2 separate regions of the Homo sapiens genome follow, and region 1 is linked to region 2. Evidence: fine-mapped expression QTL. A gene starts in region 2. The other region holds a variant in brackets. All regions are shown on one strand. Distances are between the middles of the regions.

Region 1 (12,839 bases), 100 kb before region 2:
CAGGCCTCCCTGTTTGAAGCCTGCCCTTGTCTGAGGTGCCAGTAATGGCCATGGTACCCCCTTTCTGGGCATCTTTCTGGTACCCCCCAGAAGCTGTGAAGATTCTATTCTACTCAGTAGCTCTCATTATGTAAAGAGGAACCCTGAAATAAATCAGTTGTTCCTGAAAGTTCACAAGAGTAAGAAAACAGACTGAATCGTAAAAGAACTAACTGGTATAAAAGAAGAAGCCAGAAAGTAGTGGACTGGGACCAGAGAAATAATATTTGAATTTAATTAATCTGTTCAACAAATATTTGCTCCTTGCTAACATTTTGCCAGGTCCTATGCTTGTTATACAGTTTTGATCAGACAGACACGGCCCAAGGGTACTTAGAAAGCTAGTTGCGGGTGAAGGGGGAGAGCCAATGTACAAGAAAACAAATATATATAATTGTAAGTTACAGTGGTGCTACAACAGAAAAAAAGAGGTTGCCATGTAAGATGATAAGAAGGTATAAGGAATTTACTTTGGACCAAGCATTCAGGAAGGCCTCTGAGGAAGGCAAAGCTTGACCAGAGGGTAGGAGGAACTCAGAGGACAGTGAAAGGAGAGAGGAATAAGGGGTGGGGGGGGAGGGTGGAGATTTCAAGGTGGAGTGAAAAATGCAAAGATCCTAAAATAAAAGCATCTCTAAGAATCAGAGGGCCAGTTTGGATGGCTTGACCTCTACCCTTCTTGAATCCCCTTTGATACTGAACATTTTGGAAAATCCCGTGTAGCATATACTGTGTGCCTTCCCACAATAACTGATGACTCTTAAATCTCACAAAAACAAATTCAACTGATGAATTCACGTCCTTTTAACATACATTTTGAAGATTATCTTAGCCCAAACCGGCACCCACATCCTTCTGAGCGTACTGACTCACTAGACAAAGCCAACCCCTCCCCTCCTGTGTACAAAAATAGCTTTTCCATATCTACTGTTGTAATTGTTTTTTTTCCAGGGCTTTATGCTCTACTGAAACTAAACACTTAAATGAGCAATTTCACTCTGGTTTTAAGCCCAGGGGAAATGACAACGGTTTTGTCTCTGTTTTGAGACTTAGGGGCAAATTTTAAATCGTTAATATATAATTAATCCTATGTAACATCATAGAAACAAAACATCTGATTCTTCTTTCAGTATATTGCACACGTAAAATGCACATGAAACCAGGTTTGGAGAGTGATTCTTAGTAACGTAGCCTTGCATTTGTGCTTCGACATAAAATTGAGACATTCTCAAGAGGCCTTGGGACATGGTGACATGTTGCGCAGTTTGGCCAGCAGAGGGAGACCAGAGAGTCGTGAAGCACGCAACGAAGCCACACCCAGATTAGGGTTATTATCTGTCTCTTCTCTGAATTTTCAAAAAACACAAAAAGAAAATGAGAAATTCTTAAAACAAAGCCCCTTTTTTATTGAAGCAAAATCCACATAACATAAAACTAGCCCTTCTAAAGTGTGCAATTAAGTGGCATCTACCTCATTCACAGTGTTATGGAACCGTCACCTCTATCTAGTTCCAAAACATAAGAAATGTTTAAATTTTCTATAAAGGGAACTTGCAAAAACCCAGGCGTGTCCTATCCTCCTTATTTCGTCACATTCCCAGTTTTGTGTCCACCGGTATTCTGTCAGGAATGGTCCCCACGTGTTCCCCCAACAGCCTTCGTCACTGTACAATTCATAGAATCGGATTCAGGGTTACAATTACAGGTTCGAAAACCAAAAACATCCCAGTTCTTTAGTTCTTCCTCTAGGAATTGCACAGTTGCAATAGACAAGCCAGTATAGGTGACTGTTTTAAAAATTCTACACATACTATGTCATTTATCAGCAAAGAAATGAATAAATTGTTTTAATTTAAATATGGTTACAAAACGGAAATGAACAATGTACTGCACCAAAGCCCTTCAGTCTTTGATGGGAAATTTAAAGTTATTCCCATCCAGAGTGAAAATTAAAGTTATTTCTAGGTTAGGATGCGAGCCAAGATTTTAAGGGCACCATGTCAACTGGTTAGATAACAACTTTGAGGAAAGCAGAACTTAATGTAATAAAAGCAGAAGGTTTACAATCTAAATCCACTTTTTTATTAAAGAATTTAATCTGCTTTATGGGGTCTTGGCCCAGGGAAGGGTAAAAAAAAAATGCCAAACTGGAGAGGCCGGGGGAGGGGAATGGCTGTAGATGACTCTGGGAAAACAGGAGGGAGGGAAACTGAAGCGCGAATGAGGCCGGATCCGCCCTAACAAAGAGGCAGAAACTGTGTCTCAACAGCCACCAAATCCAGTTCAGGGCGGTTTGAGCCAGTTTCTGAGCTGGATTGAGAACAACAGCCTCGGCAGAGACTTCACTAGGGTGAAAGAGAAAATCCAGCATGGACTTCGCAGAAAGAACTGGATTTGGCCTGGACTCGCTGGAGCCTAAAGCTGCTGCCAGTAGTGGCAAAGTCAGATGAAATATAAGGCCTGGAGCGTGGACAGTGGCCTCTTCCAGAAAGAGAAATCACACAGCACTGTCTCTGTGCCATAATCCAGTCCGCATTTTCTGTCTTGCTGCTCCTAATTGTGGCTGGTAAGGGAAAAAGGGCCTCAGGGTATCAGTTTTCAGAGAAAGCTGTCTGCAATGTTGGGGGAGGGGAGGATTATGTGTCTCCTGTAGTTTCATGTGTGTGCCTGGTGGTGGGGGGGGGAATGTGCGAGAGGGTCTGAAGGAGAGGGAACAGCACTTCACACCCTGCAGTTCACACCACCTTTCCAACAGCTTTGCTGTATTGCACAACCTCAAAATACACTGAACATAGGCGTTGTGGGAGCGCCCCACATACAAGTGGCACTTGTACAAGTCATTATCGGACCTCCTTCAGCCCTATGCATGAAATGGCAGTACCCATACCCAATACTGTCAACATTCTCTTTTCATCTGCGTCCAGAAATACATACAAGCCGTACATGCCTTTCTCAACTAAGAGACACAGCAGTATTAGGTAACAATGGAATGATAATCCTGTCCTCCGCTCCCCTCCCCCAAGTGCCAGAACCTCCTAAGATCTGATCAGTCCCACCCTGAAATGGCTCCTCTAACACTGTCTAGTAGACTGAACTGTGGTCTGCAGCTGTGGAGGCTGTGCACTGCCTGTGGCCAAGTTTGGCTCAGAACCTTCCCGAACCAGTACAGCCCTTCCCCACCAAAAATTCCTAGGAGTTGTACACAAAGTCCAGGTCGGCCTGGTGGGACACTGTGTGTGTGTGTAAATTCCCTCTCCCCTAAGTGTCCAAAGATGTTTAGAATCTTCCAGAGGCACTAAATGCCTCCAGACCCAGGGCTTCTCTGACTGAAGTCAGCCCTGGTGCGAGCTGGGGGGCAGGGCATGGAGCTTACGACTCTCCCATGCACAGGCTCAATTATAAGCAGGGCTGTAGGTTTCAGAAATATTCCTAAGAGACTGGGGAAGGGAAAAGGAAGAAGATCAGCTGAAAGATGTGAAAATGCTATTTTATTCCTTTTACCATGGATACATAGATGGAAAATTGGAACACAATCCACTCTACATTATTAATGTGCGAAAATCAAACACACGAAACATGTTGCTGACATTTTCTATTTAATGTTTATTACACAAATAAGTAACTCATGAAGCTCTTCTACGTCCATTTCATTAACTATTAGATCTGGACTGCTGGGGATTCTGATAGGTCTTTTCTTTCTTTAGGATTTGTTTCTTTTTTGGTAGGGAACAATGAATTGCCCCACATGAAGATGCAGTAGGCTGGAGAGGATAACAGTAATAACCGCTGGGTGTGGTGGCTCACGCCTGTAATCCCAGCACTTTGGGAGGCCGAGGGGGGCAGACTGCCTGAGGTCAGGAGTTTGAGACCAGTCTGGCCAAAATGGTGAAACCCCGTCTCTACTAAAAAAAAACACACAAAAACTAGCTGGGCGTCGTGGTGTGCGCCTGTAATCGCAGCTACTCGGGAGGCTGAGGCAGGGGAATTGCTTGAACCAGGGAGGCAGAGGTTGCAGTGAGCCGAGATGCCACCACTGCACTCCATCCTGGGCGACAGAGTGAAACTCTGTCTCAAAAAATAAATAAATAAATAAATTTTAAAAAACAGTAATAACCATAATACTGAGAACTCACTATAAACCAGGCAGTACCAAGTGTTTCCTATCTTAAATTATAACATACACACCGTACATTTCCAAGTTAGGAATTATTGTCCCCATTTTAGAGATGAGGAAAATGAAGTTTGGAATGATTCGGTACTTTACCAACGTTACACATCTATAATGTGGCAGGTAAAGATTCTGGCTCCAAAATCCATACATTTAAGCTGATACTATACCCGCCACCTCACTGGCAACGGATTATAAACCCTTTTTCAGATCCTACTACGTGTCAGCCTACTTCCGGCTGGGGGAAGATGGTCATAGCGAGAGGGGAAGAATTGGTTCAGTGATGAGAACATGGTTGGTTCCTGCCTTCAACAAGCTTTCAATCTAATGCCTGTTTTTTTCAAGGACAATTCAGAACGGTCTGACAAGGGATTTTTTTTTTTCTGCCTTTCGCCCCCAGAGGCACTCTGGGAAAAAGAGTTTAGAATTTCCCTGCCATTTCCGTGCTGTGCGGGGAGGAACACTTGAAATCGGGCCTGGCGGGGTACCAGGAGGCAGCACAAGCAGGCGGGGTGGAGAGGGGCAGGGCGAGGCCCCGGGAGCCGTCACCATGGCAACCCAGTCTGCTTTCCAGAACAATGTCTCTAACCAGGAAAACAGCTCCAGAGAGCTCGCTCTTCATAATCCCCGTGGCCTGTCGGGTTAGGGAATGCACAAAGGGGAGTCTTTCTCCATAGAGAAATGACTCTTTACAAGGCGGGGAACAAAGGGGAAACATTTGTTGTATAGGATCTTTCTTTGTTATCTGGCTGAAATAAAATCAACAAAGTGCAATTACTTAGTTCCTCTCCACTCTTCACAGGAAATGAACGCTGCATTGTTAGGCAAGGTTCCTTTTTGTGAATAATATTTGCTGTAATTTTTCTTTTATCCCCATTTTATAGATGAGAGATTAGTAAGCATGAATGAACTTGACCTCTGCAAAACTGTAATTTGAGAACCAGGGCGTCTTTTAGAAGGCTTTGTGAAGGAGGCCCTGCCTTTGCCGACTTTGTGATAAACCTACCAGATAATGTGAGGAGGGTTGGTGTCCACGTGCTCGGGGCCTTGGGAGCCACCAGCGCTGGCTGGACTCAGCCGCTGCGCTCTGCTCCCTGCGCTCGCCCCTCCCCCGCACCCGCAAATGCAGCCAGGAGGAAGAGGCGAGGAGGAATGCAGGAGGCATTCCAGCCCCACCCCCGCAAGCCTCCTCCAGCGAGTTCCGAAACTACTGCTAAGTGGGCTGCAAGGAAGACAGTGAACCAGCTGGTGACTGTACTCCTCCAGGCTTTCACATGATCTACAGCCTGACTACACCCAGCGCATTGAAGGTTGTCCCTTGCTCTCTCTGAGCTAGGGTGTGACAGCCCTTAAAGATGAGGGTAACATCGCGGTAGTCAGTCCA[G/C]GCCTGCAAGACCAGGAACAACAGCAGTTACTGTATGCCTAATAACCGACGATTTTCCATCAGTGTCCACACTTACAAATAATGTCATTTTTTAATAGTTATATAAACCAGAAAGGTTAAGAGTTCGGCTACCTCGTGGCAATAAAAGTCCTGCTCTCTGTGTCTGGGTGTCCCCGAGGAGCCCAATCCATGACAAAATCGGAAAAGCCAGAACTAGACCTACACCTCTGCAGCAGTCCCTTTGTGCAGTGATGGAGGAGAGAGGGTCCCTCATTACTGGAGAAGTCATGGGTCGCACACTTTCCAGTCTACGCTAGAGATTTTGTTGCCCTAAGGTCACTTGGTGACAGGAAATGCAGTCCCTGCCCATCCCCCACCCCCAGGGACTAAGTTAAGAACCACTGCCAGAGAACCCTTGGAAGGAGTTAATTGGATGAACTATGGATATTAAATTAAGGCCCAAATATGTTGTCCATTCCACAGAAACTTTTTTTTTTTTTTTGACAGAGTTTCACTCTGTCACCAGGCTGGAGTGCAGTGGTATGATCTCGGCTCACTGCAACCTCTGCCTCCTGGGTTCAAGTGATTCTCCTGCCTCAGCCTCCCGAGTAGCCGGGACTACAGGCATGTGCCACCACGCCTGGCTAATTTTTTTTGTATTCTTAGTAGAGATGGGATTTCACCATATTGGTCAGGCTGGTCTTGAACTCCTGAACTCACGATCCACCCGCCTTGGTTTCCCAAAGTGGTGGGATTACAAGCGTGAGCCACCTTGCCTGGAAAGACACTTACATTTCAGTAGATAAAGTTAATTTACCCCGCTTTAGGAAGTCAAATTAATGGATCTTTGTAGTGAATTTCTAAAGACTCTTACATTGTTATAATCTTCCTCCCCAAAGTTTGATTCTTGTATTCAACATTAATTCAACATTCATTGAAAACTTCCTAACAACCAGGCAATATGGTACTATTGGCTACGCTGGGCTTGTGAGTTTTAAAAATCACATAAAGCGTGGAATGTACTTTCAAAGAGCTTACAGGCTGGGAAGATACACAGGAAGTCAGCTATTCCAGAGTGACATGGCATATCCTTTATAAGGATAGGAAAAAGAGGATGTGATATGGGAGAAAAGAGGAGGGACATGAAAAACAGTAAGGTTGAGTGGAGTGAGATATAGCCAGTGAGTTTCTCAGAAAGAGCTGAGAAATGAGATGGAGTTAGCTAGAATAAAACCAGAGCTAGCAGTCAGAAAAACAGAATTTTCTTTCTTTTTTTTTAGACAGAGTCTCACTCTGTCACCAGGCTGGAGTGCAGTGGCGCCAATCTCGGCTTACTGCAACCTCTGTCTCCCAGGTTTAAGAGATTCTCCTGCTCAGCCTCCCGAGTAGCTGGGATTACAGGCACTCACCACTATGCCCAGCTAATTTTTTGTATTTTTAGTAGAGACGGGGTTTCACCATGTTGGCCAGGCTGGTCTTAAACTCCTGACCTCATGATTCGCCCACCTCGGCCTCCCAAAGCGCTGGGATTACAGGCGTGAGCCACCGCGCCTGGCTAGAAAAACAGACTTTTCATTCCAGATGTATTAACAAACAGGTCAGCTACCAGCCAGAATTAAAAGAACTCAAACGCTAAGACAAAGCAAGGAGTCTGAAGTCCACTAGGTCAGTAGCTTTTCAGGACCTGAAACAGGTGGACTAGCCCAGCAGAAGAACAGATCTGTTTCCTTACCCAGAAACTTCCAAACATCCTATCAGGATAATAACTAAGCTACTAGCACGAAAACCCTGAGAAAAGGTGAGCTATTGACATGCAGATTTCAACATCCAAAGCACTTTAAAATTTCAACATGTTATTTATAACTTTAGATTTCTTAGCAAAACTACACATTACTGGACCTAATATTAGAAGAGTAATTATTAGATACATGATCATGAGTCAGTACTAATGTTTTCACTAAAGTTTTCAAGTAGTCTGCTAAGACCTGTTCACACATGCTAGGCTAAGATCTAGCAGCAATTAAGTTAGGATTTATCCCTGTGCCACATACCCTAACATCCAATCTATTTAACCACTTTGACTCTTAAAGGGCAAAGAAGAAAGAGAGATTCCTTAAAAGATACGGGGACTTGTAGGGGCTGAAGTAGAGAAAGTTTGTTGCTGTTGTAACATCCCAATTTCGAGTCCCTTAGTAAGCACGTTTTCCAGACCCTGATTTTCTTTTCTTTTTTTCTTTTTTTTTGAGACAGGATCTGGCTCTGTTGCCCAGGCTGGAGTGCAGTGGTGTAATCACAACTCACTGCCGTTGCCTCTCAGGCTTAAGTAATCTTCCCACCTCAGCCTCCACAGTAGCTGGGACTACAGGTATGTGCCACCATGCCTGGGTAATTTTTCTATTTTTTGGGTAGAGACAGGGTCTCGCCATGTTGCCCTGGCTCAAGCTATCCACCTGCTTCAGCCTCTCAATGTGCTGGGATGACAGGCGTGAGCCACCACACCCAGATCCAGACCCTGATTTTCCCTTGCTGGTACTCATCAGTGATGTTAAAATATTTCAGTTTTCGGACCGGGCACAGTGGCTCACGCTTGTAATCTCAGCACTTTGGGTGGCTGAGGCGGGGGGATCATGAGGTCAGGAGTTTGAGACCAGCCTGGCCAATATGGTGAAACCCCATCTCTACTAAAAACTACAAAAATCAGTCGGGTGTGGTGGCGCACGCCTGTAGTCCCAGCTACTCAGGAGGCTGAGGCAGGAGTCACTTGAACCCTGGAGGCAGAGGTTGTAGTGAGCTGAGATCGTGCCACTACACTCCAGCCTGAGCGACAGACGGAGACTCTTGTCTCAAAAAAAAAAAAAAAATTTCAGTTTCTGGTCACAATGTAATATTGTATGACCTGACCTCTTTGAAATTAGACCTTCTGTCAATAAGGTAAAAGAGGAGGTAATATGATATGTGTAACTTCCAGGAAAAAGCTTTCAGATCTAATAAACAATTTGTCACTGTTTGAGAGATCAAGGAAGCAAGTGTTGAGTTGAAACCTCTTTGAGCCAAGATCTCCTTGCCAAGGCACATTAGACATGTAGTATGAGGAAGAAACAAACTTTTGGTGTGTTAAGCCATTGAGAGAATTGGTGGATATTTGTTATACAGTACAACCTAAATTAGCTTGATTAGTCACCTGTCGATATCTGTTTCTGTACCCTCATTTCTTCCCATCAGAAGCTGTGTCTTCTACACAGTCCTAGGCTTCAGAAGACACTGACTCCAGCTCCAGCTCCACAGGGTGGTTCAGTATAAGAATCATGGTAATATTAGTTCCTAATCACTAACTGGTTTAGTAAGTTTGCCAGGAAGTCTCAGCAGTTTCTCAGAGAGAGAGAGAAAGGATGTGCCTTTCTCCCTCTGGATGTTTTTATGACAATTATTTTATTATCTCACGGTTCTGTGAGTCAGGAATTCAGGAGCAGCTGAGCTGGACAGTTCTGGCTCAGATTCTCACATGAGGTTCCATTCCAGACATTTGCCAGGGCTGCATTCATCTGAAGGCTTGACTGGGGTTAGGGAATATACTTCCAAGATGGCTTATATGGCTGTTGGCATAAGTTCTCAGTTCATTGCTGGCTCTTAGTAGAAGACCACAGTTACTTACCCTGTGATCCACTCCATGGGGTTACTTGAATGTCCTCCTGTCGTAGTAGCTGGCTTTCCCCAGAGTGATCCCAACAAAAAGAACAGGAGGAAACCATTATATTTTATGTCCTAATTTTAGGAACAACACACCATCATTTCGACTTCATTTTATTCATTAAAGGAAGTCATTAAGTCTAGCCCACATTTAGGAGGAGGGGAATTAGGCTGCACTTTTGCAGGGAAGGAGGAATATTAAGGAATTTGTGGACATATTGTAAACCACCACAGATGTAACAGCAGGAAGTGCTGTTGCCATATTGAGTAACAGGAGGATCTAGCCTAAGGGTAAACCCTAACAGAGAGGAAAGCAGAACAGACATGGAAAGAATTTTGATGACATCACTGAGCCACTGATCTTACCATGCCTGGAACCTACGCTGGACTACTTAGTTATGTGAAAAAAAGTAAATTTCTTCCCTTACCATTTCAGTCTGTTTGAATGAGGTTTGCTGATATTTCCTGTAGGGAATGAAATCAACGTATCTAACCCACAATACATATTGTAAATTAACCTAGATATCAATATATAAATGTAAACATTTGAAAAATATAATCTCCATTTCTAAATTATTTAAATTATATATGTATAAAACTGCTTATTCAATTACATATACAGTTATATATGTATGTGTATGTATAAAACTGCTTACCATATAAGTTTTGTGCAATTTTTAAAAAATTATTCAAATAATTTCCAAATAATTTGTTGATTTTAAAAAACCTTTGGTGTGGCCGGGCGTGGTGGCTCATGCCTGTAATCCCAGCACTTTGTGGGGCCGAGGCTGGCGGATCATCTGAGGTCGGAAGTTCAAGACCAGCCTGACCAACATGGAGAAACCCCGTCTCTACCAAAAATACAAAATTAGCCACCCTCCCAAAGTGCTGAGATTATAGGCGTGAGCCACTGTGCCCAGCCACCAGATACGTTTTAAATAATTTTTTTGTGCCTTAGTTTTCTCATCTGTAAAATAGGGTACGGTTGGTGATGATAATTTCAATTCACAAATGAGTTAATAATGCTTTTATTTATTGATATATTTATTTATTTATTTTTGAGACAGAGTCTGTCACCCAGGCTGGAGTGTAGTGGTGTGATCATACTTTACAGCAGCCTCAAACTCCTGGTTTAAGGGATCCTCCCACCTAAGGCTCTCAAGTAACTGGGACTGCAGGCACACAACACCATGCCTGGCAAATTAAAAAAAAAAAAATTATAGGGACAGGGTCTCACTGTGTTGTCCAGGCTGGTCTTGAACTCTTGAGCTCAGGCCTCCCAAAGCTCTGGGATTACAGGTATGAGCCTCCACACCTGGCTAATATCCTTTTAGAATAGAACCATATAGAGAAAGTACTATGGAGGTGTTAATTTTTATTTTTATTAATAAAATCAATGTTAATGTCTTCAATCAATAGTCATTCAGTGAAGGCCGGGCATGGTGACTCACGCCTGTAATCCCAACACTTTGAGAGGCCAAGGCAGGTGGATCACCTGAGGTCGGGAATTCGAGACCAGCCTGACCAACACTGAGAAACCCCGTCTCTACTCATAATACAAAAATTAGCTGGGTCTGGTGGTACACGCCTGTAATCCCAGCTACTCGGGAGGCTGAGGCAAGAGAATCGCTTGAACCCAGGAGGCGGAGGTTGCAATGAGTGAGATCGTGCCACTGAACTCCAGCCTGGGCGACAAGAGCAAAACTCTGTCTCAAAAACAAACAAACAAACAAACAAAAATACAGTGCTTCCACACCAATGCAAAACACACCTAGACACAGAAGGAGCCTTGTGTTTGAGGATGATAGGTATTCATTTACCTTCACAAACCCTTCACCATATCTCAGATTGCTCATTGGGAAAAACGTATATTTTGTGAGATACTTTGGAAAGTCTCCATGTGAAGTTTGGTCCTGGTCATGTAATTATTATTTTCTAATTTCTTATTCTGTTATTTATTTTTTTCTTTTAAATTTACAAAAAAAGAGTACTAAAATATCAGGACTGTTATTTGCTCTGTCATCTAGGCTAAAATACAGCGGTGTGATCATAGCTCCCTGTAGCCTCCAACACCTGGGCTCCAGGGATACTCTCATCTTAGACTTCAGAGTAGCTGGGACTATTGCCTACACAAAGGACTATTATTCTTTTTTTTTTTTTTTTTTTGAGACGGGTCTAGCTCTGTTGTCCAGGCTGGAGTGCAGTGGTGCGATCTCAGCTTACTGCAACCTCCACCTCTCAAGTAGCTGGCACTACAGGTGCCCGCCACCACGCCTGGCTAATTTTTTTGTATTTTTAATAGAGACAGGGTTTCACCAAATGGCCAGGCTGGTCTCGAACTCCTGAGCTTGTGATCCGCCTGCCTCGGCCTCCCAAAGTGCTGGGATTACAGGCGTGAGCCATGCGCCCGGCCAGGGCTTTTTTTTTTTTTTTTTTTTTTTGAGACAGAATCTCACTCTGTCACCCAGGCTGGAGTGCAGTGGCATGACAGGATCTTGGCTCACTGCAACCTCCGCCTCCCTGGTTCAAGGGATTGTCCTGTCTCAGGCTCCTGAATAGCTGCGACTTCAGGCGCATGCCACCATGCCTGGTTAAATTTTTGTATTTTTAGTAGAGACGGTGTTTCACCGTGTTAGGAAGGATGGTCTCAATCTCCTGACCTCGTGATCCGCCCGCCTCGGCCTCCCAAAGTGCTGGGATTACAGGCGTGAGTCACCGTGCCCCGGCTGCTATTAATCTTAAATAGAGTAGATCAAAGTCACCAAGCCCCTTCTTGGAATATATTTACATATCTGTGCTCAGGGAGAAGGAATAATCTATGCAAATCCACTGCCAGTGGCTTTATTTCTCTAAGGCAGATATCTTCCCAAAGAAATAAGAGGGAAACTTGTTCCTTTATATTTCAAATAAAACAAAACAAAGAAAGATGCCCTGAGATTCTACTATGGTGGAATTTTAACTGGATTTCACCAAGAGAGGAGCCTATCATTCATTATGCAAATTAAGGAGGAAAAAAACCCCACTCTAGTCATTTCAACCAGTAGAGATTTAAATGAAGGAATTAGTTAATGTTGGGAAGTCCAGAGGACGAGAAGCTTACTCAATGAGTAGTAACTACTAACCATTTCTAGACTGGGGAAGCAAAATCACTGAGCAGAGGCCAAGGGTGCATGCAGCTAAGGCTTCTGTTATTGAAGCCCAGCTACCTGAACTGGAGCCCAGGAGCCTGCAAGCGCAGGCTGCTGTCGGAGTCCCCGTGGCTTCGTCTGCCCCAGACTTCACTACTAATGTTGCCCCTGCCATCAACGCTATTGCCGCCTCCATTCTTTTATCACTGGTGTGTAGTGCTGGAACTGCTGGAAACAGCTGCTTTTTCAACTGCTCAAAACTAGAAAAAGAGAGTCACAATTCCCTCCCTCTTGCCTTTTAATCTCTTTCCATTGGCAGAATCTGACCAAAAGTTTGTAAATGTAGATTACAGAATCTAACACACAGCAGAGCACAGAAGTGTGAGAATGAAGGTTGAAAATGTGAAAGGAAAATAAATCTTGGGGCCTCAAA
Region 2 (12,328 bases):
CAGCACTTTGGGAGGCTGAGGCAAGAGGATCACTTGAGCTCAGGAGTTCGAGACCAGCCTGGGCAACATGGTCAAAACCCACTTCCTAAAAAAAAAACAAAAAAGGGCCAGGTGCGATGGCTCATGCCTGTAATCCCAGCACTTTGGGAGGCTGAGATGGGTGGATCACGAGGTCAGGAGATCGAGACCATCCTGGCTAACGTGGTGAAACCCAATCTCTACTAAAAATACAAAAAATTAGCTGGGCATGGTGGCGGGCACCTGTAGTGCCAGCTACCCAGGAGGCTGAGGCAGGAGAATGGTGTGAACCCAGGAGGTGGAGCTTGCAGTGAGCCGAGATGGCGTCACTGCACTCCAACCTGGGTGACAGAGTGAGACTCCATCTCAAAAAAAAAAAAAAAAAAAAAGAAGAAGGCCCAGAGTCTCACCTGGCATCCCGGCTCTGCCCCGAAGAGCTTTGCATTGTGGAAACTCCTTTCTTTCTCACTCCCTGGCCATCTTAGACAGCTGCTCATTTAAAAATATCTTTTGTGGGGACCAGGACAGAGGTCCCTCTTACCTAGCTAAAACTGCAATACCAGTTCTATACTTTTCAGTGAGTCCTAGTTCAATATCTTCTAATAAGAACCATTTCACCTATTTAGGTAGCCTATCTATGTTGGAAGATGGTAATGATGCCCTTTCCCTTCTCTAATTACTTCCTGTATTAGTTTTTTATTGCTGGGTAATACATTACTACAAACTTAGTAACAAAACAATACACATTTATAATCTCACAGCTTTTGTGGGTCAGGAGTTTGGGCCATAGGTGTATCTTCTGCTCAGGGTCTCAGAGGCTGCAATCAAGGTGTTACCTGGGTTGTATTTTCATCTGGGGGCTTGGTTGGAGAAAAATCTAAATTCATTCAGTTTGTTGGTAGCTTTTATTTCCTCAGGACTATATGACTGAGGGACCGGGCTTTTTTTTTTTTTTTTTTTTTTTTTTGCTCCTGGTTGTCTGGAGCCTGCTCTCAGGTCCTAGAGGTTACCCAAAGAACCTACAGGCCACTTGTGGTAACCTTCCATATAGGCTTATTCAACATGGCTGCTTTCTTCATCAAGCAAGCAAGGAAAAGTTCTCTCCTCAGGGAGGATCCAGCTTCTTTTCAAAGGGCTTTTACCAGATTAAGTCAGGTCCACCCAAGATAATATCTCTTTTGGTTAACCCCAAATCAGTTTATTTGGTTCTTTATTACATCTGCAAAATTCTTGGCTAAAAGCAAGTTACAGGTTCTGCCCTCGCTCAAGAGAAGAGGATTATAGAGACTGTGATCACCAGAAGGTGAGGATCATGGAGGTCATTTTCCTATTCTCAAGAGTTGTTTCTTAAGTTTTTCCAAATTTGCCTATTTAACACCTCATTCAACTTCTCTGCAAGTTTGAGGACAATAATAAAAATGATCAGGTTGTTGTTGATTCATCTTCTCTCTTAATGGGAGGGTGGGGAGTACTGATAGAAACTGTTCAAGCTGAACTATGTATTAGTACTACTCCTACAAGTACTACTATTACTACTACTCTTAGATAATATTTATTGGGCCATCACTATATATCCAGTATTACTCCAAGTATTTTACCAGAATTTAGTCTTCATAATAACCTTAAGAGATCAGGGATATATATAATTTTTTTTTTTTTGAGACGAAGTCTCTCACTTTGTTACCCGGGCTGGAGTGCAGTGGTGCGATCTCGGCTCACTGCAACCTCCACCTCCCAGGTTCAAGTGATTCTCCTGCCTCAGCCTCCCGAGTAGCTGGGATTACAGGCGCCTGCCACTACGCCCAGCTATTTTTTTTGTATTTTTTGTAGAGACGGGGGTTTCACCATGTTGGCCAGGCTGGTCTTGAACTCCTGACCTTATGATTTGCTGGCCTCAGCCTCCCACAGTGCTGGGATTACAGGCGTGAGCCACTGCGCCTAGCCATATTTTTTTTATTTTTATTTTGGAGACTATCTCACTCCATTACCCAGGTTGGAGTGCAGTGGCCCAGTCTCCCCTCACTGCAACCTCCACGTCCCAGACTCAAGCGATCCTCCCACCTCAGCCTCTCAAGTAGCTGAGACCACGGGCATGCACCACCACACTGGGCTAATTTTTATATTAATTAATTAATTAATTAATTTTTGATTCCGAGTCTCACTCTGTTGCTCAGACTTGAGTGCAGTGGCACCATCTTGGCTCACTGAAACCTCTGCCTCCTAGGTTCAAGCGATTCTCCTGCCTCAGCCTCCCGAGTAGCTGGGATAACAGGCATGCACCACCACACCTGGCTAACTTTTGTATTTTTAGTAGAGACGGTGTTTCACCATGTTGGCCAGGCTGGTCTTGAACGCCTGACCTCAAGTGATCCGCCCACCTTGGCCTCCCAAAGTTCTGGGATCACAGGCATGAGCCACTGCACCCAGCCTAATTTTTGTATTTTTTGTAGAGACTGGTTTTGCCATGTTGTCCAGGCTGGTCTGGAATTTCTAGGCTCAAGTGATTCACCTGCCTCTGCCTCCCAAAGTGCTGGGATTACAGGCATGAGCTGTGCTTGCTCGGGAGGGCTATTTTTATCATCCCCATTTTATAGACTGGGAAACATTTGCGTAGAGAATTTCAGGACACTAAACAAGTAAGAAGTAGAGCCAAGGTTTCAATTCAGGTAGTAAGCCTTCAGAACCTGAAAGCACTAGATTAAGCTTCCTGTTTTATTATTTTGTACTCAGAAACTTCAGTTTTCCATTTCAATGGCTTTTCGGAGTTTATGCTGTTTTTCTTTTTTTTTCTTTGATATGGAGTTTTGCCCTTGTTGCCCAGACTGGAGTGCAATGGCATGATCACAGCTCACTGCAACCTCTGCCTCCTGGGTTCAAGCAAATCTCCTGCCTCAACCTCCCAAGTAGCTGGGATTACAGGCGTGGGACTAATTTTATATTTTTAGTAGATATGGGGTTTCAACATGTTGGTCAGGCTGGTCTCGAACTCCTGACCTCAGGTGGTTCACCTACCTCGGCCTCCCAAAGTGCTGGGATTACAGGTGTGAGCCACCGCGCCCGGCCTATGCTGTTTTTAAAAAGTTCTGTTTTCTTTGTTCAGTTGCTACAACTGAAATGTATTGGTTTATATTTATTATTTTAGTTTAGGTCTTTTTTTTTTTTCTTTTTTTGTGAGACAGGTTCTATGATCCTACTTTACTCTAGCACTTTTTCCTAGGAAAATTATATTTAGCCTGTATCATTTTAGCCTAAATATACCAATAAAAACATAATGGTAGATAAAATATGAAAATCCTTTTGTACTAACTGGTAAGTAGCTGCCCCATCCTACCACACCCTTCATACCACCAAGTCAGGCTCAGTCCCCAGCTGAAGAGCCTCTGGACCTCTTCAAGATCCTACAACTAAAGAATTAACACCTGACAAAATAGGGTGGGGGGAGGGAAGTCTTCAAGCCTGCTTCCATTCTGATTGGTCAGTGATATAGGGATTGATAAATATTTTAAATGTGGTCCTACCTAGAAGTCTTAAGTTCAGCTTTTTTCATTCTTCATTGTTTTTGTATTTTCTGTTATTTTCTAACTTGAATACTTTCTTTTGTACCTAGTCTGACAGCCTAGGTACAAAGTTCTACATCATAAGTCAGGTCAAGTATCACTTCCTCTGTGAAGTTTTCCCATATAGTATGAGGAAGATTTAGGTTCTCTCATTTTAGAATTTTTTTATGCTTAAGACATACCACCAAAATATTAATGATCTCATAATGTTTATCTGTATTTACAACTCTTTCCCCATGAGAAACAGTGTCATTTCCTTTGGGCATCCCCAGTGCCCAGAATAGTTTGTGAGACATTATAAATATTGTATTCATTGAACAAATCAATGAATAGTTGATTAGGTCAACCAGCGGGTTTGCATGGCTGAAGAGACTGTAACTGTGGTTGAGGATATCTGAGGAGATTCGAATCCAATAAAATTGTCTAGTTGGAGTCTTCAGGAGGCAAGTCTAGAATATGAGCATATCTAAGAAAACTGATAAATCTGTGGTTATGCTGAATTATTTTTCCATTTGCTATTAGCATGGATAATCAAGAATAGACTATCATAGGCCAAGCATGGTGGCTCATGCCTGTAATCCCAGCACTTTGGGAGGCTGACGTGGGCAGATTACCTGAGGCCAGGAGTTCGAGACCAGCCTGGCCAATATAGCAAAACCCCATCTCTACTGAAAATACAAAAAATTAGCCGGCCGTGGTAGAGTGTGCCTGTAGTCCCAGCTACTCAGGAAGCTGAGGCAGGAAAATCGCTGAACCTGGGAGGCAGAGGTTGCAGTGAGCTGAGATCGTGCTACTGCACTCCAGCCTGGGCAACAGGGCAAGACTGTCTTAAAAAAAAAAAAAAAAAAAGAAAGAAGGCCAGATGTGGTGGCTCACGCCTTTAATCCCAGCACTTTGGGAGGCCGAGGCGGGTGGATCATGAGGTCAGGAGTTTGAGACCAGCCTGGCCAAGATGGTGAAATCCTGTCTCTACTAAAAACACAAAAATTAGCTGGGCGCGGTGGTGGACGCCTGTAATTTCAGCTACTCAGGAGGCTGAGGCAGGAGAATTGCTTGAACCCGGGATGTGGTGGTTGCAGTGAGCTGAGATCACGCCACTGCATTGTAGCCTGGGCAACAGAGCAAGACTCTGTCTCAAAAAAAAAAAAAAGAATAGACTATTATAAAAATGATTCTTTTTTATATGCTTACAGAAGACATAAAAAGAGAAACATAATGGGCTCTAGTATTCCAATCCAATTTCTCTTATTATTATGGAGTGTAACATTTAATATCAATATTTCTAATTTTCTGAGCATCTACTTATAATTGAGCACTGATGTACTATGAAAATTATAATAAATAAATTATAATTGAGCATCTATAATTTATTGAGTATATGCTAAGGACTGTGCTAATGATGTTACAACATTTAGCGATTAAACAATGCAAATTTAATTGTGTTATATCCCGACTTAAAACCTTTTAAATGATTCCTCATTGCTGTCCCAATGAGGTCCAACTTTTAGGCAAAAAATTAATTAAATCATTTATCATGATAGAGATGACCTCTTCTAGGAAGGCTTTTCTAATTCTCTAGGTCTGGATTAGGTGATATTTCTTTTTTTTTTCTTCGAGATGGAGTCTCACTCTGTTGCCCAGGCTGGAGTGCAGTGGCGTGATCTTGGCTCACTGCAACCTCTGCCTCCCGGGTTCAAGTGATTCTCCTGCTTCAGCCTCCCGAGTAGCTAGGACTACAGGCGCGTGCCACCACGACTAGCTAATTTTTTTTTTTTTGTATTTTTAGTAGAGGCGGGGTTTCACCATGTTACCCAGGATGGTCTCGATCTCCTGACCTCATGGTCTGCCCGCCTCGGCCTCCCAAAGTGCTGGGATTACAGGCGTGAGCCACTGCACCCGGCCCTAGGTGATATTTCTAAAGGCCACCTTATATTTTAAGTAAATTGAATGGTTCCAGTTATAAAAATAAGTATTAACAACCCTATTCTAATTTCTTATTAGTTACAAAAATTTCTTGTTCAGTTTTCTGTCTTCTTCACTAGAGTACAGATTTCTTGAGGACAGGCACCTAACAGATCTACAACACAGTGATTGCTAAATAAATACTGAACCAATACATTCATATAATGAGAAGTTACATAAAAAAACAATAACCACACGGTACCATCTAATATTATTTTCAGGCTATTCTTGCCTTGCAAAACATATGTACTTTTATTCTTTTTTTTTTTTTTTTTTTTTGATAAGGGGTCTTGCTCTGTAGCCCAGGCTGGAGTGCAGTGGTGAGATCTTCGCTCACTGCAATCTCGGCCTCCCAGGTCCCAGTTCAAGCAACTCTCCTGCCTCAGCCTCCTGAGTAGTTGGGATTACAGGCACGCACCACCATGCCTAGCTAATTTTTGTAATTTTAGTAGAGACGGGGTTTCACTATGTTGGCCAGGCTGGTCTTGATCTCCTGACCTCAGGTGATCCACCCCCCCTCAGACTTCCAAAGTGCTGGGATTACAGGCCTGAGCCACGGCACCTGGCCAAAACATATGTACATTTATTCTATCATTTAGTGCTTCCAACCTAGTTCAACTATAGTCATGATTGCCATTATACAGGTGAGAAAACTGAGTAACACACTTATTCCGAGGAACCGGCAAGGAAGCTGCAGTAGTTGAACTTGAACCCAGATCTCTTAACCAGTAAGGCAGTGACTTGTCCACTACCTCCTGTGGAATTCATTAAAGGCCGACTCCCAGCATGAAATTGAATAAATGGGATGAATACAACTTCTGGTGAGAGAGTATGATAAAAAGTGCTTGCTCTGTTACCAAGCAACTGAAAGAAAGTATGTTTTTTTCATTCCTTCATTATTAATACAATTCAAAGTACATTCTGTGAATTTAAAACATAAATGATGAATAAATCAACATACTCCTGGCTTTTATGAAAATCTTTCCCTCTGCTCTTTAAACTCTCACCTACCTCCTTCCTTCTTTCTTTTCTAAGCCTCATAGAGGGCGCTCACAAAGTGCTACTTATTGATTGAGGAAGATCCACTCAAAAAACACACCTCACACTGCAACTGAGAGACGCAGCGCCACCACCTCGGGCTTCCTTCTCTTTTCCACGCAGGAGGCGGGGCCAATGTCCCTCATTCAAATAAAAAACCAGAATTTGCATGGGGAATGGCTAGTCCTTGAGCTTATTGGCTGATAGCACAGTGGGCGGGGTACATAGCACGACCCCCCGGAGCCCCGCCCATATTAATTTGCATAACGGCCCCGGCGCGTGCAAGGGAGAAGCGGGTTTGTTTTTGAATCTGCGGAGGCGGCGGCGGTGGCAGCGGCGGCGCGGCGACTGAAGCGCGCGAAAAGCTGAGGCGGCAACGTCGGGGACGGCTGCGCGGGACGGCTCTGTAGGAAGGAACTTGGTTCCCCCTCCCTCAGCTTCCGCCCCAAAAGGTATATGTGAATCCCAGGGGCTGTTAAAACCACATTTTCTTAAATTACTATTGTATTTCTGAAGAGTCAAGACCGCATTATGGCGGCTGCGGGAGTTGTGTCTGCGCCTGCGCGGTTGCGGAGCTGCGGGCGGCGCTGCATGGGAGCACGTGATCTTGCGGGGTCGGGCTCTAGCTGCAGTTGTGCAGCTGGCGGGGCGGTGGCTGCGCAAGCGCAATATTCATTTTCAAGATCTAATGTTCTTGTTGGACGCCATTTGGGTTCTAGATTTAATTTTCCTCGTTCTTGAGGGGTTTCTTTGTGTTAACCTTAAATTCTCACAATTTTCAAGAAAAACATTACTCTAATGTTGTACTCCTGGGCCGACCTCAAGCTCTTCTCTGTTTTTTCGATTTTTTGAAAAATTGTGGACTTAATTTTCTGTAAAAATGATTTTCATTTGTGGTTCTTGATTATAATTTCAGTTTTAAAGTATTACTGGATTCAGGTTTATATTTACGGTGGTAAAGATCAGCACCTAGTGGTGTTCTCACGGGAAGTGCATTTATTTGAACTGCATATTTGCAAATACATTTTTAACCCTATTTTTACCTGTTCTGTTATGGATGTGTGGAATGTTTACAAAACAGAAACAATTTTAGTTTTGGGAATATTGGGGGAACGGGAATAGTGGAAGAAATTACAGTATAATCGAAAATGAAATCTCAATCTGAGGATTATTTTGGTTTTAAATGTTTGATCCTAAGTAAATAAAGTTTTAATTTTAATCAGTTTGTATGTTTCTGGGCATTTGAATTTTACATGTTTTAAGTTTCTTAGGTGACTTGTTCATTACTGCTTCAGCTAGATTATTGTTACTTTTGAAATTAATCAACTCATTTTCTTAGCATTTTTGTTTGCTATGATATGTAAGCTATAACATTTATTTGGTAAATTTTTCTGATGAAGAATTCTAGAAAGAACATCCATTACCCTGAGGCCTCTTTGAAGAAAGTGGACCATTAATAAAAAAAATCTGTTTTTTTCTTTTAAACACTGTACTGTATGCATGTGTGTAAGATACAGTTGTGTTTGATTTTTTAATTGTAAGTGTGCTCCTGGTTTTATTAATAGTTTTTTAGGGAAGGTAATTATAAATATGCTACTGATTAGTTTAAAATGGTAGTGTCAACTATAGTTAAATCTTATGTAACACAATTGGGGGAAGTTATATAAGATTTGATATGATTCTCCCGTTGTGCAAATTCTTTCTTACTAAGCAAAGAAACTTGCAAATGTTTTCCATAGACTTCATTTGTGGTTCATATATACAACAACTGGTTTCTTGGTTGGTTATAACTCTTTAAGTTTGAATCAGTCTACTGTCAAATGAAGACGTGCCTCTTGCTTTATAATCTCGGTTAATTTAGGGAAATTTTTATTGCCTAAAACAAATACCATTAGTAAATATTACCTAGATGTAATTGAAAGTAATACTTTTGGTTGGTGGATTTTTAAATGACGTCACATATGAGATAGAATGGAGGTAGGAAAGATTCTTCTTTTTTTCTCAAGAGAATATTTGACCTGATGTAATTCTTGGATCTCTGAGGTCTTCTACACAGAAGTATATTTAGAGAGCAGTTGTGTAATTTTCTCCCTTTTATGTTTCTGGAGTGGTTACCTAGCAGCCCCTTTCTACCACATGCTATTTCAGGCATTTTCGAGTTGAACATACACATAAATATTTCGGTTAACAAAAGAACTTTGATCTTTGATCTTAGGGCATGGTACACTTTACATTTCCAGAAAAATGAAATAGTTTGGTGTATATAAGCGTATGTTTTCATTTGAATATACAGATGATTGCTTTTTAGGTTAATATTGAAGGTAGTAAGAGGTATTTGAAAATGCTCTTGAATATGAAGAACATATTTATTGATGGGACGATTTTGCTGTCATGTTTCTTACAAGGCAGATATAATCATGTAAACTTAATAAGATTAATTAATTGCCTGAACACCAACTATTTGTTTATTAGTACTTTGTCAATAACAAGTATATTTTAAAATTTTAGTTTGGTGGTTATGATGCCACAAAATTTTGACACATATCCAACATATATAAATATTAAGACTAGGTTACTCCAGGAATGAATACCAAGTTACTGAAGTTATTTAAAATCTTTGTAGTTTTGTAAATTTAAAAATTTATATGTAGTTTAGAAAAGACAGGTTTGAGTTATTAAACAATTAGAACTATTTTTTCTTTAAATTAGGTTTTGCATATGTGATAAATGTATTTAAATATTTTTAAACTTATTCATTATAGAACATTTGGAAAATATTGAAAATTAATTAACAATGCTTAGAAATAACCACTCTAAAGGTATTGGTGATTTGTGACTTCACTTTTCCATGATTGAGCAATCTATAAATGTTTATTAATTAGTTTTTCATTGGTACCATAATTTCATTTCTACTCTTTTAATGTTATGAGTATTTTCCCATTTCATTATTCTTCTAAAATATGTCTTTAAATGGTTGCATGATACTTTATTATAATATCCCACATGATCAAATGTTCTTTTTAAACACATTTTAAAATGGTTACATATTATTGTTATCTCTAAGAAGAATTTACTGTGATTTATTAAACCTTTCATTTTTTGTTTCCTGTTTTGCTTTTTGCTCATTTCTCTATTAAAAATAATGCTACAGTGAACGTTCTTGTACTATACCTCAGAATATTTCTTTGAAATTACTTTCAAAGGACTTTTAAAGTAATTTGCAAAATTGATAAAAACTTTTTTTTGAAAAGCATTTTTTATCATATTCAATACCACCATCAATTAGATGGGTGAAAAATAGTAGCTCATTAACTTTTTTTGATAACTAGTGAAGTTGAATTTGTTATTGTTTTATATATGCATTTTTTTCATTTTCTGTGAATTAGCTGTTTGACTTTTTGTGTATTTTTCTATGATGAGTGTTACTGTTTTTCTTATTTGTTGGTAACAGCTACTTACGGCTTTGGGGTCCTTAGCTTTTAATATTTGTCACAGTAATTTTAAAATTACCTTTTAAGTGGTTTATGATTGTATATGTTAAGAAGTTTTGCATTTTTATGTAGTAAAATGTACTGCCCCCCTTTTTTTTTTTGAGATAGGATCTTGCTCTGCTGCGCATGCTAAAGTGCAGTGGCAGTGATCTCTGCCCACTGCAGCCTCGACCTCCCAGGCTCAAGCAATTCTCCCACCACTGGAGTAACTGAGACTACTGGTGAAGGATATCACACCCCGCTAATTTTTTCTTTTTTTTTTTTTTTTAATAAACAAAGCCTCATTATGTTGCCCAGGCTGGTCTTGAACTCCAGGGGTCAAGAGAGTTTCCCACTTCAGCCTCCCAAAGTGCTGAGATTACAAGCATGAGCCACCATGTCCAGCCTGTACTGCCTTTCCTTTTTCCTTTATGATTTCTACAGCACTTGTCTGCCCAGAAAATATTACCTGTTGTAAGGTGAATTGTATGTTTATATTGTATTTTATTTTATTATTATTGTTTTTTGAGGTGGAGTCTAGCTCTGTCTCACAGGCTGGAGTGCAGTGGTGTGATTTTGGCTCACTGTAACCTCTTCTTGGGTTCCAGCGATTCTGCTACCTGAGCCTCCCAAGTAGCGGATTACAGGCGTGCACCACCATGCCCTGCTTTTAGTAGAGACGGGGTTTCCCCGTGTTGGCCAGGCTCGTCTTGAACTCCTGACCTGAGGTGATCTGCCTGCCTTGGCCCCCACAGTGCTAGAATTACAGGTGTGAACCACCGTGCACAGCCTTGTTCATGTGTTTTGTTAATTTTTTACTAGAACTTTTTCTGGAAGTTTTAATAAACTTAAAAAATACTTTTACATCTATGTGGACATATCTGTGTTTTGACATATTGTGTGTTAAGATAAGTTGCTAGTTTCCATTTTTTTCCAGATATCTAGTTTCCATAGACTTGATCCATTTCTTATTGCTTTGGTAGCAAACAATTCTGATTCATATACTAGGTATATTTAACCTGGGGTCCATTGTCCTCTAGGGGTTCCACCGATCCCTTGATATACACAATTTTATGTAAGTCTGCATATGTTCATTTTTTTTTTTTTTTGAGATGGAGTTTCGCCCTTGTTGCCCAGGCTGGAGTGCAATGGCACGATCTCAGCTCACCGCAACCTCCGCCTCCCAGGTTCAAATGATTCTCCTGCCTCAGCCTCCTGAGTAGCTGGGATTACAGGAATGTGCCACTATGCCCGGCTAATTTTGTATTTTTAGTAGAGACGAGGTTTCTCCATATTGGTCAGGCTGGCTCGAACTTCCTACCTCAGGTGATCCGTCTGCCTCGGCCTACCAAAGTGCTGGGAGTACAAGTGTGAGCCACTGCGCCTGGCCTCCTATGTGCATTTTTCTGGGGAAAAAGTGATAGCTTTCATTAGCTTCTCAAAAGAATATATGATATAAAGTTTAAACAGAGGTTGACAATGACTGTATCTGGGCCTTATTCTTAGAGCATTATTGCATTGTTTTATTTGCTGTAGGACGGTACACAATTTAAATATGTGTTTGTAGTGCTATATCCTATATAAAATCCAATACCCACTCACAATTCTATTTTACAATTTTCATAGCTGATTTTGACTGTTTTTGCAGATCAACTTTAGGTTCATTTGGTTAATTAAGAAAAAAAAGCCAGCTAATGGTTTTGGTTACAATTCCATTAAATTTACATTGGGTGAATTTATAACCTTATACTATTTTTTTTAATTCATCGGTATTACACACTTCCTGTAGACTACCAAAAAGCACTATTTCCTAGGAACTCTGGGAGAATTTGTGGTATCTGTGACTTTTCAGGAGGATGTTTTCTTGGTGCAGCTATAATTTTAGTAGGGATGAATTAGGAGACAATATAAGGTTATATTTCTGTTTTCAATCTGGTTTAGGACATGATGACATAAAAGTAGTATCAGTATGAAGTTAGACGTGGGAAAAATAAGTCGCAAAATAAAGTATTGTACAATATTCGAAATCAAAATCCTTTTTTGTTAAACACAGACAATTTTTTTTTTTTTTGATGGAGGAATTTGAAAAGGTACCTTACTCCTTTTCTGGCCAGGGTGAGGCTTAATCTCATAATAAAGATAAAAAATTTTTATTTTAGTTTCCTTGGTATCATTAAATTATTATATTTTCTGATAAGGATGTTTCCCTAATTATTAGAATAAATTTATTTTCCATTAAATCTCTTTTTTATGCTGATTGCATTGAAAAAGATTATCTTGATT

What was found. PIP is the estimated chance that this variant, and not a neighbour inherited with it, causes the effect.
Region 1: its variant is fine-mapped to the expression of ATF7IP in whole blood (TOPMed, PIP above 0.99).

Annotation. Positions count from the first base shown.
Region 1 is chr12:14,255,406-14,268,244 of GRCh38, forward strand. It overlaps the pseudogene GNAI2P1. Among named protein-coding and RNA genes, the nearest start is that of ATF7IP, 100 kb to the right of the region's middle. RefSeq lists a cis regulatory region at 2,065-2,994. The variant G/C (reference allele first, on the strand shown) is at 5,592.
Region 2 is chr12:14,358,801-14,371,128 of GRCh38, forward strand. ATF7IP (activating transcription factor 7 interacting protein) reads left to right here and starts at 6,882. Exons shown (of 15, transcript NM_018179.5): 1 at 6,882-7,027. It overlaps LOC124902884 (a long non-coding RNA gene), which reads right to left and starts at 8,390. Exons shown (of 2, transcript XR_007063220.1): 1 at 6,549-8,390. RefSeq lists enhancers at 6,463-7,280, 6,512-6,571, 7,042-7,101, 8,458-8,597.